5 linked regions of the Homo sapiens genome follow. The protein of the gene in region 3 interacts with the protein of the main gene of each other region in a pairwise test. Each region holds a gene or a part of one and is shown on either strand. Other genes may lie near its edges. The genes, in order: PTPN11, SLC10A6, SLC38A1, SCGB1D1 and PMP22.

Region 1 (3,525 bases), about 66 Mb from region 3:
GCAGAAAAATCACCCAAAGGTAACATCTTGCCAGACCCATTTTTCAACTGGAGATTTACCTGACAGCGAATCATAACATGGGTCACTTTAGACTTGCCGTCATTGCTCTCCCCTTTGTCATCACCAGTGCGCACAGAAAGAACAAAATCTCCAGGGTGGCTCTGGCTCTCTCGTACAAGAAAACTACCATGTTTTCCTTTTTCAGTTAATAATTTCTCTGCTTCTTTCCCAGAGAGATGTCCATGAAACCACCTAAAGTTTTTAAAAAATAAAAAAGAATTTAGCTCTACTATGGGTTCATGTTGTTCTTTCACAAAACTACTGTATACAGTCAGCTCTCCTAAACACAATTAAAAAGTAGACACATTCCTCCAAGGGATTGATCAATCCCACCTGAGACAGAAAATCTGCATCCCATGCAGGCAGGAAAAACCACAAAGATGGTAAGAATGACCACTAAACTTCTTAAATGAGTCCACAGTCCTTTAGAGACAAATGCCCCAATCTTTCCTGTTTTTTTTTAAATCCCTCCTCTTTTAAAAATGCAATTTGCCATTCGTCCATTGCCCAATCTTAAAAGGACCAACTGTTTAATTATAGCCATTTAAAGAAGTTACAGGCCATGCATAGTGGCTTATGCCTGTAATCCCAACACTTTGGAAGGCCAAGGCAGGAAGATCACTTGAGGCCAGGAGTTCAAGACCAGTCTGGGCAACACAGTGAAATCCCCATCTTCACAAAACAATTAAAAATTAGCCTGGCATGGTGGCAACTGCCTGTAATCCCAGCTATACACAAGGCCGAGGCAGGAGGATCACTTGAGTCCAGGAGGTCGAGGCTGCAGTGCGCTATGATCATGCCACCGCACTCCAGCTTGGGTGACAGAGCAAGACCCTGTCTCAAGAAAAAAAAATAAAAGTCGGCCGGACGTGGTGGCTCATGCCTGTAATCCCAACACTTTGGGAGGCCGAGGCAGGTGGATCACCTGAGGTCAAGAATTCGAGACCAGCCTGACCAACATGGTGAAACCCTGTCTCTGCTAAAAATACAAAATTGGCCGGGTGTGGTGGCAAGTGCCTGTAATCCCAGCTACTCAGGAGGCTGAGGCAGGAGAATCACTTGAACCTGGGAGGCGGAGGTTGCAGTGAGCTGAGATCGCACCATTGCACTCCAGCCTGGGTGACGAGCGAAACTCCATCTCAAAAAAAATAAATAAATAATTTGTAAAAATAAAGTCAAAATAAAGAAGTTGTAATAAAAAGTTGTAATAGAGACAGGCACGGTGGCTCACGCCTATAATCCCAGCACTTTGAGAGGTCAAGGTGGGCGGATCACCTGAGTTCAGGAGTTTGAGACCAGCCTGGCAAACATGACAAAACCCTGTCTCTACTAAAAATACAAAAATTAACTGGGCATGGTGGCACATGCCTGTAGTCCCAGCTACTCGGGAGGCTGAGGCAAGAGAATTACTTGAATCTGGGAGGCGGAGGTTGTAGTGAGCCGAGATCGCGTCACTTGACTCCAGCCTGGGTGACAGAGTGAGACTCCATCTCAAATAAATAAATTAAAAAAAAGAAAGAAAAAGTTGTAACAGAGACAGAAAATCATTTTGAATGTTTGTCCTTGCCTTGGCATGTGAACACTCAATTAAAAAGGATCTTCATTATAAATTAATTCAAACATTCCAACCTTTTCCATATATACAACCTATACTTCAACAGCCTCCAGTGTCTTTGGACTATATCCTGGGTGATCATCTCAAACTGTATAATGCACATAAGACTTGGAGTAAAAATGAGGGATTTTGCTAAAAATATGAATTCCCAGGCTCCACAACCAGCAATATCAATACATGTAAGTCTGAATGAGGCCCAGGAATCTGCATTTTAACCAGCACATCAGACAGTCCTGATGTAGGCATCCAAAGCCATCCAAGGACAGACTTTGAGACAATACTGCTCCATGTTTTTTGGGAAGCATCTTAACATAGTTCTAATAATAAAGTGGCTTTTTCCCTCAGGATCTTGGTCAGAAAGCAAGTACTATCATGGCAGGTGGTGTTAAGGGCTCATCATCAAAAGAATAAACTTTGAGTTATTCTTCATCCATACTCAACTGAAAACAGTAAAATTTAGAAATAAACTGTACAGAGTTGGCTGACAGCCTTTTGCCTGAAGCTACGGTGGTAGCTAGAGAAACAAATTATCAGCACATAATAGCACTGACATAAAGGTATAAGCTGAAAAAATCATACCTGAAGACACAAAATATACAAACTAACTAAGAGATCCTGAATTTGCACCAAGTCAGAGAGGAGATTGGGAATGTACAAAACGAATACAATCAATAAATAAGTCAAGCCCATGCTTTCATCAGCCTAGTTCCAACACAGGGGGAAAGATCTCGAAAATAACATAATTTTCTCTAAGCAAGGTCATTCTCACATAATTGTGGTGATAACATTAAAAGAACTGATGAAAAAGCTGACCCTCTGAGCTCTCTGCTTTTCCACTTCTGAGCTTAAACTGACATCTGTTGGTGACATTGCTGAATAACTGGTCGAGAGCCACCATAGAAAACTGCTGCTATTTTGGTGTCTCCATTATCATTTGTTTTCCTCTAATAACTCTCAAAGATTATCTGCTGAAGTTCAATAAGTCTTAAAACTAATACACGTACCAAGTATATGCAGGAATGGTATGCAACCCCTATAGGATGAGTGTAAGTAACACTGATTAAAACTTTTGCAGGAAAAAGGTACTCTGAAAATAATTTGATGCTATTAGTCTCACTTTAGTAATTCTTTAAAGATTACAGCTCAAAAAACAGTCACAAGCCTTTGGAGTCAGAGAGTCATACACAGACCGTCATGCATTTCTGACACTCAGGGCACAAGGGAGCAGCAGACTTTGTGGTCACTAAAATGTTACTGACCTTTCAGAGGTAGGATCTGCACAGTTCAGAGGATATTTAAGCTCAATGACATCTCCATTCTTCTCTTTTAATTGCCCGTGATGTTCCATGTAATACTGGACCAACTCAGCCAAAGTGGCAAATTTCTCCCCTCCATACAGGTCATAGTAATCACCAGTGTTCTGAATCTTGATGTGGGTGACAGCTCCATTTCTTCTAAAATAGTCCATTGGAAAGGGAGGCAAGGGGACAAATAAAGAGTTACACCAGTAAAATCAGATCTCATCTTCCACGTCGGATTTTACCTAAGTGTTGAAAGAAACCCAAGGAACGAATTTACCTATTCCCTATAAGAAATACGATGGGTGAAATAACCACATGTCAACCAACTCAACACAAAGGTCTTTATTAGTATCTTTACCTTGCATATCTTTTTTTTTTTTTTTTGAGATGGAGTTTCGCTCTTATTGCCCAGGCTGGAGTGCAATGACGTGATCTCGGTTCACCGCAACCTTCGCGGTGGATTTACATACATTATAAATCCAGGTTCAAGTGATTCTCCTACCTCAGCCTCCCAAGAAGCTGGGATTACAGGAATGCGCCACCACGCTC
Region 2 (3,525 bases), on a different chromosome or scaffold from region 3:
AGGCTGCAGTGAGCTATGCTCACACCACAACACTCCAGCTTTGGGGACAGAAGGAGGCCCTGTCTCTAAAAATAAAAAAAGGAACCTTATAATATACCTTACTCTGCAACTTGTTTGCTTTTTTTCCCACTTCATCTATCACAGACATCCTCTCAGACCAATACATTTAAACTTATTCTTTTAAAGAACTGCGAAATATGCCATAATCTAAATATGCCATAATTTCTTCAATCACTTCATTAACCATAGGTCAGTTGCTTTTAGTTTTTTGCCATTATAAATAATGTTATAATAAACACTCTCATACATACTTCACTTGAAATGATTCTTTTCTTTCTGTGAATTCCCAAGGTGGAATTGCTATGTAAAAGTCTGTGTTTTTTGTTTTAATATATACTTTCAGACTACTTTCCAAAAAGATTGCTACATTTCACAATCTTGCCTACTCCGGATGTGATCAGTCCCTTCTAATTGTCATGCCAGCATTGAAAAATTGATCTCACTCTTGTTACACTCTTATTTTTTTTTTTTATTTTTTTTTTTTAGCTGGAGCTCACTCTGTCACCCAGTCTGGAGTGCAGTGGCCTGATCTTGACTCACTGCAAGCTCCGCCTCCCAGGTTCAAGCAATTCTCTCTGCCCCAGCCTCTGGAATAGGTGGGATTACAGGTACCCGCCACCACACCAGGCTAATTTTTTTTTTTTTTTTAATTTTTAGTAGAGATGGGTTTTACCATGTTGGCCAAGCTGGTCTCGAACTCCGGACCTCAGGTGATCCACCCACCTTGGCCTCCCAAAGTGTTGGGATTACAGGCGTGAGCCACTGCACCCAGCCGACACTCTGGATTCTATCAGGTTGTGCTTTCTTTCATGTCAAGTGGCTTCTTCTGTGTCCTCCTCTCTAAACAATCTTGCTTGTCAGACTTCTTCTCAACTTGTAGGAGTTCTTTTAAAATTAGGGCTCATATTACCATGAATAATACAAGTATTTTTTCCAAGCATGGTGTATATCTTTGACTTTGCTTATGACTTGCCATAATTAACATTTATATAGTCAGAGCTGTTTTTTTAATGGCTTCTGAGTTTCTTATCTTAAAGACCTACCCTGATCCGAGGGCATTCAAATATTGTCTTCTACTTTTTACTTTTATGCTTATATTTTCAACTGACTTAAAATTTATATTTTGCATGGTAACAGGTATGAGACTAATCCATTTTTTCTATTAATATATTGAGATGCAAGTGTGTCAATATAATCTACTAAAATAAACCATTTTCCACTATACTGAAGTGTCACCTTTATCATTTATTAAATGCCCAAGTGTACACAAAATATTTTCTGGAAATTCTCTTCTAGCTCATTGATAAATAACTTTCTTTTTTCCTGAACAAATACTAGACTAATTACAGTGTTCTCATATATGGTAGGGCAAATACCTCCACATAAATTTCCCTTTTCAAACTTGTCTTAGCAGTTCTTGCTTATATTTTATTCCATATGAAACCCAAAATTATTTTATCCTATTAAGAATGCTTACTTTAAGCAAAGATTTCTTCCTGACTAGTAGGCAATTTAAAAGAAAAAAAGCAGTTTGCCACAGCTCTCAAACCTCTGTATCCACAAAGAGGCTGTTTAGAAAGTTTTTTCCAAATTCTTAGTCTATGATAGTGCTACATTCCTTGACTCTCCATATTACTAAGTCCTGAATGGAATTCCATATTATATCACTTTACTCTTGAACTTCTGGAGAACCAGCACAACATTTCTCTACTGAATGGCTTTGGCTCAAACAGCAGAAAGGTAAGACTCATGATTATGGGAAGCAAAGTGAGATTTATATCCGACTGATTCTATATCCTTGATTACCTATGTGATTGCTTCCATGTTTATACAATTTTCAAGCCCATGGTGATCATGATATTGGTCAAGGATGGCAAGAGGTTATCCTGGTGCTCTGCCAACTGTTACAAATACCAGCAAAGGTGGAAAAGCACACAGTGAATGCCTGTGAGTACAGTGGAAAGTCACGCCTTGTATTTTTAGCCATGAAATTCCAATGTAGCATAAACAGAGGATGTGGCTAAGTAAGTCTCTTGACTTTTCATGTATAGGAAAATTTTTGGCAAAATCTAACTTCAGTATAACAAGATTCCACTTGCATTGAGAAGAATAGCATCATCATCTCCAAACTATTACAGAAAATAATGAGACATATTCAGCAAGTCTAGACAAACAGGTCAGTCTTGAACCCTCCCTTAAAGCAGGGAAATTACATATATACACATTACATTAAAATGCAGTGTCAATAACATTTTGCAATTGGAGATTAAGTTATTATAAATTGTTTTAATTTCAAAAATCCCATAAAATCAGGAACTCTGACCCTCAAAACTATGAAAGTATACACTTGCTTTCCGACTGAAAGAAATAAAAAATTATCCAGCTAACCAGATGGACACGGAGTGAGCTATAAGATCATACCAACAGATTTGACCCTAGAATAGAGCGTAAGGCCCGATTTTCCATCCCTCAATATAAATGTTACCCTTGTCTGCTGCCTTCCAATAATAATGAGTATTTATTGAGCACTATGTGCTAGGTGTTATGTCTCATGCTTTTATATACATTTTCTCTTTTCATCTACATAATAACTCTATGTGTGAGTATTATTTTCATTGTATAGATAAGGAAATTAAAGTACATAGAGACATGGAAGCTTGCATGAAGTCTCATGAATTCAGTCTCCGTTCTGTCTCCAAAGCCTTAAATGCAAAGGACCTTCAGTTTTCCACCAAGACATGTCAGATAGACCTGAACAATTTGAAGTTCTATTTCCAGGTTCTCTACTGAAGGACTAAGAACTTCTTTAAAGTTCAAAGGTCAAAGTTGGCCACTGAGCTCCACAGGCTCCAACACCACCAGTGGTCAGAATCCTTTGTCTGCAGCTGAGGACATAAATACATCCTTACGGAAGAATGGACCTCTTGTATATATCAAAAGTTCTCAAACAAAGATAGTGGGAGGCCAGGCGTAAGTGGCCCACACCTGTAATCCCAGCACTTTGGAAACCCTAGGTGGGAGGATTGCTTGAGCCCAGGAGTTCAAGACCAGCCTGGGCAACATAGTGAGACCTCATCTCTGTAATAAAAAATAAAAAATTAGCTGGGTATGATGGCGCATGCCTATAGTCCCAGCTGCGCTGCTCAGAAGGCTGAGGTGAGAGGATCACTTGACCCCAGAAGGCCAAGACTTCAGTGAGCCATGATTGTACCACTGCACTCCAGTCTGATGACAGAGTCTAAGACCCTGTCTCAAAAAAAAAAAAAAGAAAAGAAAAGAAAAGAAAAGAAAAGACAAGACAGTGGGAGCTGTCCTGAGTTGCATCAATAAATGGACACCTCTTTTCTTTCTTTCTTTCTTTCTTTCTTTCTTTCTTTCTTTCTTTCTTTCTTTCTTTCTTTCTTTCTTTCTTTCTTTCTTTCTTTCTTTCTTTTTTTTTTTGAGATGGAGTCTCGCTCTGTCACT
Region 3 (3,525 bases):
TGAGAGTCTTTTTCTTCTCTGCTTCTCCTTCTCGTACTGCCCTTCCCACTTTGAGCAGTGACCAGGCCCTTGAAAATACCCCTCACACTTGTCCTCTTGTCTCCATTTCCACTGCCCAAGTTCAGGTCCCTGTCACCTTACCTAGACTTGGAGACATATGAAACAGATATAGAGGTGCCTTGAACAACCTAGGGGCAGTGGGAGTGGGCGGTGGAGAAAAATGCAAGCACAACATATGGTTAAGAGTGAAACAGCCAGTTACTGAGGTGGAACAGCTTTCCTGTTGGTCTCTCCTCCATATCAAGTTATGCTCCCCTAATTAAATCTCCATTCTTTCATGAGGTTTATATTTCTAAAATTCAGTTCACATTTTGTTAAAGGACCTTGCTTTTAAAAACCTCTGAGGGTTTCCATTGCACACAAATACAGTCTAAATTCCTTAGCCATACACTTAGGACCCTTCACAATCTGCCTTCTCATCTCTTTCCAATTTTTTCTCTTGATATTTTCTTTCTCACAGTTCACCCTATTCCCTCCCTATCACTTTTCTGCTTCAATATCTGTGTGGATTGGATTCCAGTCCAGAATGCCTACTGAAATCCTGTGTACTTGTGATGGCCTATCCCTGATGCCACTTTTCCACCTCTTGGGAGAAGTGTTCACTGATCACCTCACTGGCATTTTCATAAGTATTTGTTTATCCTTCACATTTTGGACTGTTGTTACTCCAGGTGATGGAAGGTGGTGAATAGGGGCTTAGGCTCTGAGTCAAATATAAATATCAGGCCTCAGCTTACTCACCCAGGAATCTTGGGCAAGGTGTTTGGCATCTCTAAGCCTCAGTTTTTTCTTTTGCTAAATGGGAATGATGATGCTGGTGGTAGTGTTGGTGGTACCCACTTTACTGAGTGATGGTAAAGATTTAATGAAGATAATGAATGTGAAGTATTTGGTATAGTGTTAGCATTCCATATGTATTGAATTAAACATATCTACCAGAGGAGGGAGAGAAAGTTGATCAGTAAAGTTCCCTTTACCTCTGAAATTCTGTGACTATGTAATCTTTTAAAAATACTTTTCTGAAAATATATCTTGATGGAAACTACCTGGATCTTTTTAGTCTCTGGGAGAATATACATCTATGAAAGGTGGTGAGGAGGTAGGAGAAGTATGTGCACAGAAGTACTTTGAAGAATGTGTGACAGACTTCGAAAAAGACATCTTGTATGCAAAGGCACACAGAGTAATATAATGGACTGTGGAGACTCAGAAGCCAGAGGTTGGAAGGGAGGATGCCAGATAAAAAGCTACAGATTGGGTACAATGTGTACTACTCAGATGACAAGTGCACTAAAGTCTCAGATTTCATCACTTTCAATTCATTTATATAACCACCAAAAATCACTGATACCCCAAAATCTATTGAAATAAAAAAATTTTAAGTAAAATTAAAAGATTAACTTCAATAACCTAAAAAAAGACACTGACCCTAGATTTAAAATAAGATTTTAAATTTAAAAATATTGTTGTACTTATTTCTGAAAATTGATCACATATTTGTTTTCTAGTGATAACCTTACTAATAACAGAGGAGTTCCCCTAACCATGTTACCTTCCCAATCACTGAATTCCTCTACTATTAGTAAGTAACTCTGTTTCAAGTGAGGTTACAATGTGTCTTTGGCAATAACTAGCTGGGTACCCTTGAGCAACTCATTTCACATTTTTATGCCTCATTTTCTCATCTGTCCAATGCTAATAATAGTATCAGTGCTGCGTACCTCAGAGTTGTGAAGATACAATGAGAGCAGAGCTGAGAAAGTCCTTGAACAAGTTTAAAAAAACTATTCAAGATGATAGTCATCTGGCATTAAGCATGCTGCTAATCTTCAGGGTCAGGTGATGGTTTTAGATTAGTGAGTCTCAGAGCAGACTTCACATTAGACTCATCTAGGGTGTTTTAAAAGCTGTCAGTGCCAAGACTTCAACTCCAGAGATTCAGATTTAGTTGGCCTGGGATGGAGCCCAAATATGGGAGCTTAGAAAATATCAGGGGTGATTTTGATATGCATTGGTTTAGATTTAAAGCAAGGAAAACAAAACAAACATCAGAAATTAAATGAGGACCTCCATATGTTGCTTGACAAAGTCTTAGTCTTAGTAGTGTGAAATTATGAGCTTGACTGACTTTTCCCCCTGATTTTACTAAACCAACCATTTGTTGACATCATGGAGCCACAGCCTCAGGTTACAGTTTATAACCTGAATTTTCCCAGGCATAGACGCCTGTCCAGTGATACAGCCAGAGCCACATGAAGATTTAATGTGTAGATCTCAGTTTCCATCTCTTAGGAATGGCGAAGGTTGGAAAAGAAAGCGACAATGGAAAGGAAAAAGAAAGGGATAGGCTATGGACCAAGGTATAGGAGAAAGAGGCTCTGAGCAGGAGACAGACAGGTCAGAGCACAGAGAAAACACTGTGTTTAATTTATTGAACCGGTTTTGTTTAGGTTGCAAACTGGTGGCTAGAGAGCCAAATTAAGCTTGTGGGCATATTTTATGTGACTTACGCTTTCTTTTAAAATTATTTGAAATTAGTTGCCAACTCTTAAATATCAGAATTTCACTTAGAATTTTGATTTCTGGCATTTATTGAAAAACATAAAAATAAAAAGACCAGGCTCATTCCTGCCACTAGTTGGAGGGAAATAGATGGGACATGTGTTCTCTAGTTCCTTATGCCCAGTCTGCTTTGCCCATTTATCTTACCTACCTGAGCACTAGCTTCTTTTGTTTTAACTTTTATTCTCAATCTGGGGATCTTAACATTGGCTGCACATAAGAATGCTCTCCTCTGGAGAGCGTTTAAAATAACCATGCTTGGATCCTGTCCTATACCAATTAAGTCAGAGACTGTTGTGTGTGTAGTGTCCCCTTATCACTTTTATTTTTTTAAAGCTCCCCAGTTTGTTCCAATGTCCTGTTAGAACTGAGGCCTATTGGCCTACAAAGGCAACTATTCAAGAGATTTGTCTACAAGTCCACCTTCTTATCTTTGGAAGTGATTCATTAAGAAATAGTGTATAGAATCATTAATTCAGAGAACTGGGAGAGGTCTTTGAGAGAGCAGCCATTAATCCAATCTTCTTATTTTAAGGTGAGGAGACAGAGACCCAGAGAGGAGAAAGGAATTGTTCTGAGACTGTAACCATCATCTGGTATTGAATTATATAGTGTCTTTTATTACATTTTCTCTTTTCAAATAAAAGTCTATTTTTAAGATTTCTTTTTATAAATGATCCTCTTTATATGCAGCACTTTGTGATGCTTTAAAGTTCTTATTATTTCTGTTTTTCCTTGAGTATTTTGTTAGGAGTCATAACTTAGCTAGGGCTTAAAAACAAACACACAAAACTGTATCCATCTTTTTTAGTACAATAGCAATCCTTGATCAGAAATATCTTTAGAACAAAAAACATATATGCAAATAAAGAGATTTTTCTCAAGGGCTGAAATATTCCAGGC
Region 4 (4,079 bases), on a different chromosome or scaffold from region 3:
AGCCTCCCCATGTGGGAATTCTGCCTCAGGGCCTGAGCACCTCAATCCTGAGCCTGCAGCTTCCATGAGCATTTGCAGCTAAACCTCAGGACAGCAACCCAGAGGCAGCCAGGCTGAGAGGCCCCTGGAAAACCTCTGATTTCTTGAGAAAGACAGAGTGAGAACATCCCGCTTCCATGGCACTGCAGGAGGTAGAGTAGCGAGGGTCTTGGCCCACTGGCCGTGGTCAGGAGAGCATCGTGGGTGAGGAGGGGAGCGTGGAGTCTGAGGAGCTGGGAGGGGCTCCTTCCTGGTTCTGCAGAAGCTGCAGAGAAGTCCAGCCCTCCAGCGCAGCATCTGCAGGAGCCCCTGCTCTAGGTCCCTCCCTGCCTTCTTCTCCCTGTTCAAGGCTCCCACACTCCCCAGTACATTCCACAGTGACTGTGTGAGGTCCACTTGGCCTCAGGAAAGTCCCCAGGTGGAGAGACAGTTGTGCTTGGCCCTTCACCACCCCTGCCTGGACCCAGGCTCACTCCCCATGTCCTCAGCACACTCTGGGGACACGGCATCCAGGTAGGTGACCTGAGAAGGAGGAACATGCAGGAGGCTGTGTGCAGCTGAGTTGAATTCTGCAGGTGAAATGGTAGCACCCACCCTGTGGTCCCAGGTGACCTTCTCAAGCGGTGACCAGTAAGGCAGGTGCCCCACCACCTGTGTCCCTCACAGAGCAGCAAGCAAGCTGACCTCACTTCACACTGTGCCGCTGACCAGAAGCCTGGACACATGAAAGAGACAGAAATTACCAATGTTTTTGTAATTAGCACTCTTTTCTCATAGGCCATCGTATCCACGCATTTCTTCACTTCCATCTTGGCTGCAACAGCTTCCAGAGGTGCCTTAAATTTGGCAAGTTGGAACTTGAACACAGGTTTTCCAGCTAATAAGAAGCCTGTGATTTCAGAACCAAGAGCTTGGCAGACCACTGCATTTGCTGGAGCAAAAGAATAAAAATATAATTTGTGTAAGGAAATCAGTGTTTCTCCCATGCCTCCCTGATGTCAGACCAGACAGGAACCCCAGGGTTTTAGGCTTCTATTCAATAACTATGCCAATGACAATGTCAGACCCAGGAGGTTGTGACTTCCTTGAGGTCACACAGCAAAGGGTAGAGCTAGAACTGGAGAACCAACTTCCTGATCACTCATTCAGTCTTTGTTTTTTTTTTAAAGCACACTCATTACTTTCCAAAGCTTCTCTGGATGGATGGCCAACGTTCTCTTTTCTAGATTTGAAAATAATCACTTTTCTATGCCAGTTAAGTGACACTTTATTAGTCTTGGACATTGGTGAAGAGGAGGCTTTGAGTAATCAAATTTTGAAGTGGAATGGTAGAGTCAGAATCCTATCAGAAATTAGAGAAATGAGTAAATCTGGAACAGAAGAAGTTAAAATTATTGAAATGTTGAAGGTGATGTTTTGAGAACAAGTTGTAGAATTTAGGCTTATGTGATTCAATACAGACAGAGCTAAAAGGTAAACAAATTAAAACAAAATAAAATAATGTGAATCAGTTTTAACACACATTAGAAGCTTATACAGGAAATTGTACTTGGCCCATATTCTGCAGCAGCATCTAGAATATTTGGAGAGGATGAGAGGAGGGAACTGAGGCTCATTCCTGCTCCCACTGGGAATTTTGGAAAGACCTGGAGTAATCATTTTGCTTGGTCTGGAATCTCCATTCACCTAAGTCTTTTGCAAACACCATGCATCCAGAAAGCGCCCCACCATGCTCAACATGACCCCTGACTACCCGACTTCAAACTGTGGGGAGAATTTGGAGAGGGTAGGATCGGGGTGTCACAGGGAAACAGGGAGAGGTTCAGAAAAGAAGAGGAAAGAGAAAAATCAGAGTCTGGATCGGTCCTGACAGGGGAAAGGAAAGTACCCAAATGAACTGGGGAAAAATCAGCCAGAATTAATTTTAGAAAAATAGAAGTTCTGAGGCTAACCATTGTAGTATTTCTACCACCATTACGGTAGGACCCCTAGAAGATATATTGAGTGCTGCTTATTCTAAGAATTCATTTGCAGGCTTCTTATTGAGAGAATCAGAAAGCACCATCTCTTCTTGGACTGAGAGTTCTCCAAGGATCCTTCGAGATGTAACATTTTATGAGTCTGAATTTACAATGTAAGAAGCTGTGAGCTCAATTGGCACCTAAAGGTCTGGGGACGAGAATGTCTGACAGTACAGTGATTGGCTTCACATCCACAGCTAGACCCTTGGCACAATAATCCCACTCCATTCCCATTGCCACTCCCGGAAGAAGCTCTAAGCACCAGAGATAGGAGGAGGCGCGGGGAGGGTGAGCATCTTGCCCACGGTGAAAGGGCTGAGAAGTGGCTGAGCCCAGAGTCACCCCAGACCTCACATTACATCATCTGACACAGATCCCATCCAAGAGTGAAGCTCAGGCAGAATTCCTAACGTTCGCCTGCATTGATTTTCTGCAAAACTTCCTAGGTACTGGGGATTTGATGAAATGAGGCCCGAGCTTTATGAGCAGTTCCTTCAACAAGCACAGGATAAGGTTTGGAATTTTGGTTTGTTCCAGACCCCAACCTTAACCTTAATAGGTGACCTCGTGCTCAGAGAAGGGTGTGTCCCAAGGGCTGGTGCTGGACTCATGACTGATGTACTCACCCCGGTAGCAGCAAAGGGCCAGCGTGAGCAGCAGGAGACACACCGACAGCCTCATGGTGGCTTATTCTGCTGTGAGCTCGGCTTTAACCAATGATGAGTGATTTAGACTCAGCCCCGGGAGCCTGTGGAGCCGTGGAGCCCAGGGCTATTTGTACCTAGGGAGCCTGGCTGGTCCTGCCCACATGGGCATCTGGCAGGTGATGAGGCCTGGCTTCCAGCCCTCCCTTCCTAGCCAGGGCTGCTGCCATCCATCAGTGTCACATCCCCACACCTCCCTGCATCCTGAGTGGGGCGGAGCACGGGAGGGCAGCCCTGCAGAAACTCTGCTCTGTGCTCCAGGTGAGTGTCCAGGTGCCTCTGGCAATGTTCCCTGGAACCTCAGTTTGCTTTTGGGCTTTTGAGGATTATCTCTCTGTTCTTTATGTCAGTGCAAGGGCAAATGTGAGTTCTCATTTCAGGAGGACAGAAACCGGGGGTGCAGGAAGCTAGGGGCTGTGGTTTGGTTATAGGAGAGCAGGCACAGAAGAGACCCCACTTTGACCTCCACTGCATGTCTGACAATCAGCCACACGTGTTTCAGCTGCACATAGATCAAGTCTGAACCAGACCTATCCTCCCACTCAGCCCCTTCCATCCCCACCATCTTCACCACATAGGTACCTAAAACATAGCTGCATACACCCCACCTTTGGAGGATTTCCTTGGGGAAAACAACCACTCCCCCTGTCCTCTACTCTGTCTCACTCCAAGATCTGTGTCTTTATTTATGGGTGGAGTTGTCAACATAGCACAGGTTCAAATTTTCTGTCTACTAAAAGCAAGCCTCCAGTGACCTCTAGCCACCCATATCTCCTCATAGGGCTGATGGGATGATTAAATTGCCCAACTTTTTTTACCCAAGGAGCTGCTGGGGTGTCTGGAGGCAAACAGGCATCAGAAATACTGGTCTTCGCTTCTAGGCAGGGACGATAATGGAAAGGAAGAGATGGATGAACAGGGTGGGTGGTCACTTCCCTCTAACCTCTGGGCTCAAGTTTTCCACTTCTAACCCAGCTCTGCTGCCTGGGTCATCTCATTGTTGATGGAAAGCGAAGGCCATCCCCAGCAAAAGCAATAGACACCCTTCTGCCCTTCCACTGCAGTGCCATCATTTGGTGAGTAGGAAATCACCAGAAATTTGGCTCTTAAGTGAACACACATTTGAGAACAGTCACAGCCCAGGCCAGAGCTTTCCATTCTCTGCTCTGCAATCAAATCACTTGGGGCTCTTAAACTATACTGACTCCCCGCAGGCTGCTTCCCTTTCTGGGGATTTTGATTCAGTAGTTCTAGGGCGAGGTCCTCTTCTGTTTAAACTGCTCTGGTGGGTCTGATGGGCAGCAGTACTGAGAAC
Region 5 (2,524 bases), on a different chromosome or scaffold from region 3:
CCTTCTTTGGGCTTCAAATGCAACCTTGGGGCACCCAGGGAAATGGAGCTTGCCTTTGATCATCTTCCCCCTCTGCAGCGTGGCTTCCCAGTCATACTGTCGGCTGCATCCTTATTCCTCACTTTCTTTTTCCCTCTCCACACATTTCTTTGTCTGTTTGGCAGTGCCCATAGGCATTGCTTGCTTCACCTGGTATGTGGCAACTCTGTTAGGGGGACCATAGGCCCCTGTGGTCTGCATGGAGCTTAATCCTTTTACCATGGCGTGACTCCAATAATGGTAAAATGTCACTTCACTTCCATTGGCTTTAGGTAATGCCACCACTCACTTGTAGAGTGGCATATAGATTTCCAGGGGTTTCCATACCCAACCACCCTTGGAAAGAGACAGGTAGGTTTTTCTTGCAGCCTGAATGCCTGCTGGCCATGTAGTGTGGCCTGGGAATTGGTGACAGTGAAAGAAAGAGAAATAGGGCAGAAAATGTAAAGAAAACCCTCAGGTATTAAGGCCTAGGTGGCCAAGATTGGAAATAGAGAGCAAGTTGTTTTCCTTGTTCCCATATTTTTGTGCTACCTCCTTTCAATTCTGGACCTGGAAGCAGATTTCCTTCCAGAGGTAGAAATGTTCTTCCTACCCAGCAATTGTCAGCATCCGGGGTGGCGGAGAGGGGGCCGCTCTGCCATGGACTCTCCGTCACCCAGCTTGTCCCTCTCCTTCCCCAGGTCTGTGCGTGATGAGTGCTGCGGCCATCTACACGGTGAGGCACCCGGAGTGGCATCTCAACTCGGATTACTCCTACGGTTTCGCCTACATCCTGGCCTGGGTGGCCTTCCCCCTGGCCCTTCTCAGCGGTGTCATCTATGTGATCTTGCGGAAACGCGAATGAGGCGCCCAGACGGTCTGTCTGAGGCTCTGAGCGTACATAGGGAAGGGAGGAAGGGAAAACAGAAAGCAGACAAAGAAAAAAGAGCTAGCCCAAAATCCCAAACTCAAACCAAACCAAACAGAAAGCAGTGGAGGTGGGGGTTGCTGTTGATTGAAGATGTATATAATATCTCCGGTTTATAAAACCTATTTATAACACTTTTTACATATATGTACATAGTATTGTTTGCTTTTTATGTTGACCATCAGCCTCGTGTTGAGCCTTAAAGAAGTAGCTAAGGAACTTTACATCCTAACAGTATAATCCAGCTCAGTATTTTTGTTTTGTTTTTTGTTTGTTTGTTTTGTTTTACCCAGAAATAAGATAACTCCATCTCGCCCCTTCCCTTTCATCTGAAAGAAGATACCTCCCTCCCAGTCCACCTCATTTAGAAAACCAAAGTGTGGGTAGAAACCCCAAATGTCCAAAAGCCCTTTTCTGGTGGGTGACCCAGTGCATCCAACAGAAACAGCCGCTGCCCGAACCTCTGTGTGAAGCTTTACGCGCACACGGACAAAATGCCCAAACTGGAGCCCTTGCAAAAACACGGCTTGTGGCATTGGCATACTTGCCCTTACAGGTGGAGTATCTTCGTCACACATCTAAATGAGAAATCAGTGACAACAAGTCTTTGAAATGGTGCTATGGATTTACCATTCCTTATTATCACTAATCATCTAAACAACTCACTGGAAATCCAATTAACAATTTTACAACATAAGATAGAATGGAGACCTGAATAATTCTGTGTAATATAAATGGTTTATAACTGCTTTTGTACCTAGCTAGGCTGCTATTATTACTATAATGAGTAAATCATAAAGCCTTCATCACTCCCACATTTTTCTTACGGTCGGAGCATCAGAACAAGCGTCTAGACTCCTTGGGACCGTGAGTTCCTAGAGCTTGGCTGGGTCTAGGCTGTTCTGTGCCTCCAAGGACTGTCTGGCAATGACTTGTATTGGCCACCAACTGTAGATGTATATATGGTGCCCTTCTGATGCTAAGACTCCAGACCTTTTGTTTTTGCTTTGCATTTTCTGATTTTATACCAACTGTGTGGACTAAGATGCATTAAAATAAACATCAGAGTAACTCACTGGTCTCTCTTGAGTTTTTGTGGGAACTTGGGTGTGGGTACAAGGTGCCTGTTGGAGCAGGATGAAGAGCTTCAGTGGAAAGCAAAGTTGAGCTGGAGATTTGGGTTACAAGATGGTGCTAAGGCACCAAAATCATAGCTGTTTTACAAGCTACAGGGAGCACATGATGCCTTCATGATGTCTGTGCAAAGGTTTGCTAATTGGAGACAGTTGGGAATTGCAGCTGAAATGGAGGCTGTAAATGGACTGGAAGGCACTTGAGTATTCATTTAGTTCAACCCTCTCTGGTGCTCTGTTGTTTGATGACCCACATGGAAAACATGGAGGCATGTCATGAGCTGCCCTGATATACTGGGAATGTTGGCAGAAGCATCTCAGATCCCTCACCCTGAGGTATGATATGGTGAAAGGTCTGAATGATGGTGACTTGAGGCCACACTTGCAGATAAAACATTGGTTGGCACCAACTAAGCTCCTAATGCCATCCTGAAGGAGAGAA

What was found.
Region 1: the proteins of SLC38A1 (region 3) and PTPN11 interact in a two-hybrid assay, tested with the Homo sapiens proteins (one large-scale study listed by BioGRID and IntAct).
Region 2: the proteins of SLC38A1 (region 3) and SLC10A6 interact in binary tests that used the Homo sapiens proteins (3 or more experiments, as listed by UniProt).
Region 4: the proteins of SLC38A1 (region 3) and SCGB1D1 interact in binary tests that used the Homo sapiens proteins (3 or more experiments, as listed by UniProt).
Region 5: the proteins of SLC38A1 (region 3) and PMP22 interact in binary tests that used the Homo sapiens proteins (3 or more experiments, as listed by UniProt).

What each region holds. Positions count from the first base shown.
Region 1 is NC_000012.12:112,449,922-112,453,446, reverse strand, and holds part of PTPN11 (tyrosine-protein phosphatase non-receptor type 11), read right to left. Parts: intron 3,130-3,525; coding exon 2,935-3,129; intron 253-2,934; coding exon 60-252; intron 1-59. UniProt on the Homo sapiens protein: Acts downstream of various receptor and cytoplasmic protein tyrosine kinases to participate in the signal transduction from the cell surface to the nucleus. Positively regulates MAPK signal transduction pathway. Dephosphorylates GAB1, ARHGAP35 and EGFR.
Region 2 is NC_000004.12:86,839,385-86,842,909, forward strand, and holds part of SLC10A6 (sodium-dependent organic anion transporter), read right to left. Parts: intron 1-3,525. UniProt on the Homo sapiens protein: Transports sulfoconjugated steroid hormones from the extracellular compartment into the cytosol in a sodium-dependent manner without hydrolysis.
Region 3 is NC_000012.12:46,262,529-46,266,053, reverse strand, and holds part of SLC38A1 (sodium-coupled neutral amino acid symporter 1), read left to right. Parts: intron 1-3,525. UniProt on the Homo sapiens protein: Symporter that cotransports short-chain neutral amino acids and sodium ions from the extraccellular to the intracellular side of the cell membrane. The transport is elctrogenic, pH dependent and driven by the Na(+) electrochemical gradient.
Region 4 is NC_000011.10:62,188,947-62,193,025, reverse strand, and holds the start of SCGB1D1 (secretoglobin family 1D member 1 precursor), read right to left. Parts: upstream 2,811-4,079; 5' UTR 2,742-2,810; coding exon 2,687-2,741; intron 971-2,686; coding exon 783-970; intron 1-782. UniProt on the Homo sapiens protein: May bind androgens and other steroids, may also bind estramustine, a chemotherapeutic agent used for prostate cancer. May be under transcriptional regulation of steroid hormones.
Region 5 is NC_000017.11:15,229,279-15,231,802, reverse strand, and holds the end of PMP22 (peripheral myelin protein 22), read left to right. Parts: exon of another isoform or gene 1-722; coding exon 723-886; 3' UTR 887-2,024; downstream 2,025-2,524. UniProt on the Homo sapiens protein: Might be involved in growth regulation, and in myelinization in the peripheral nervous system.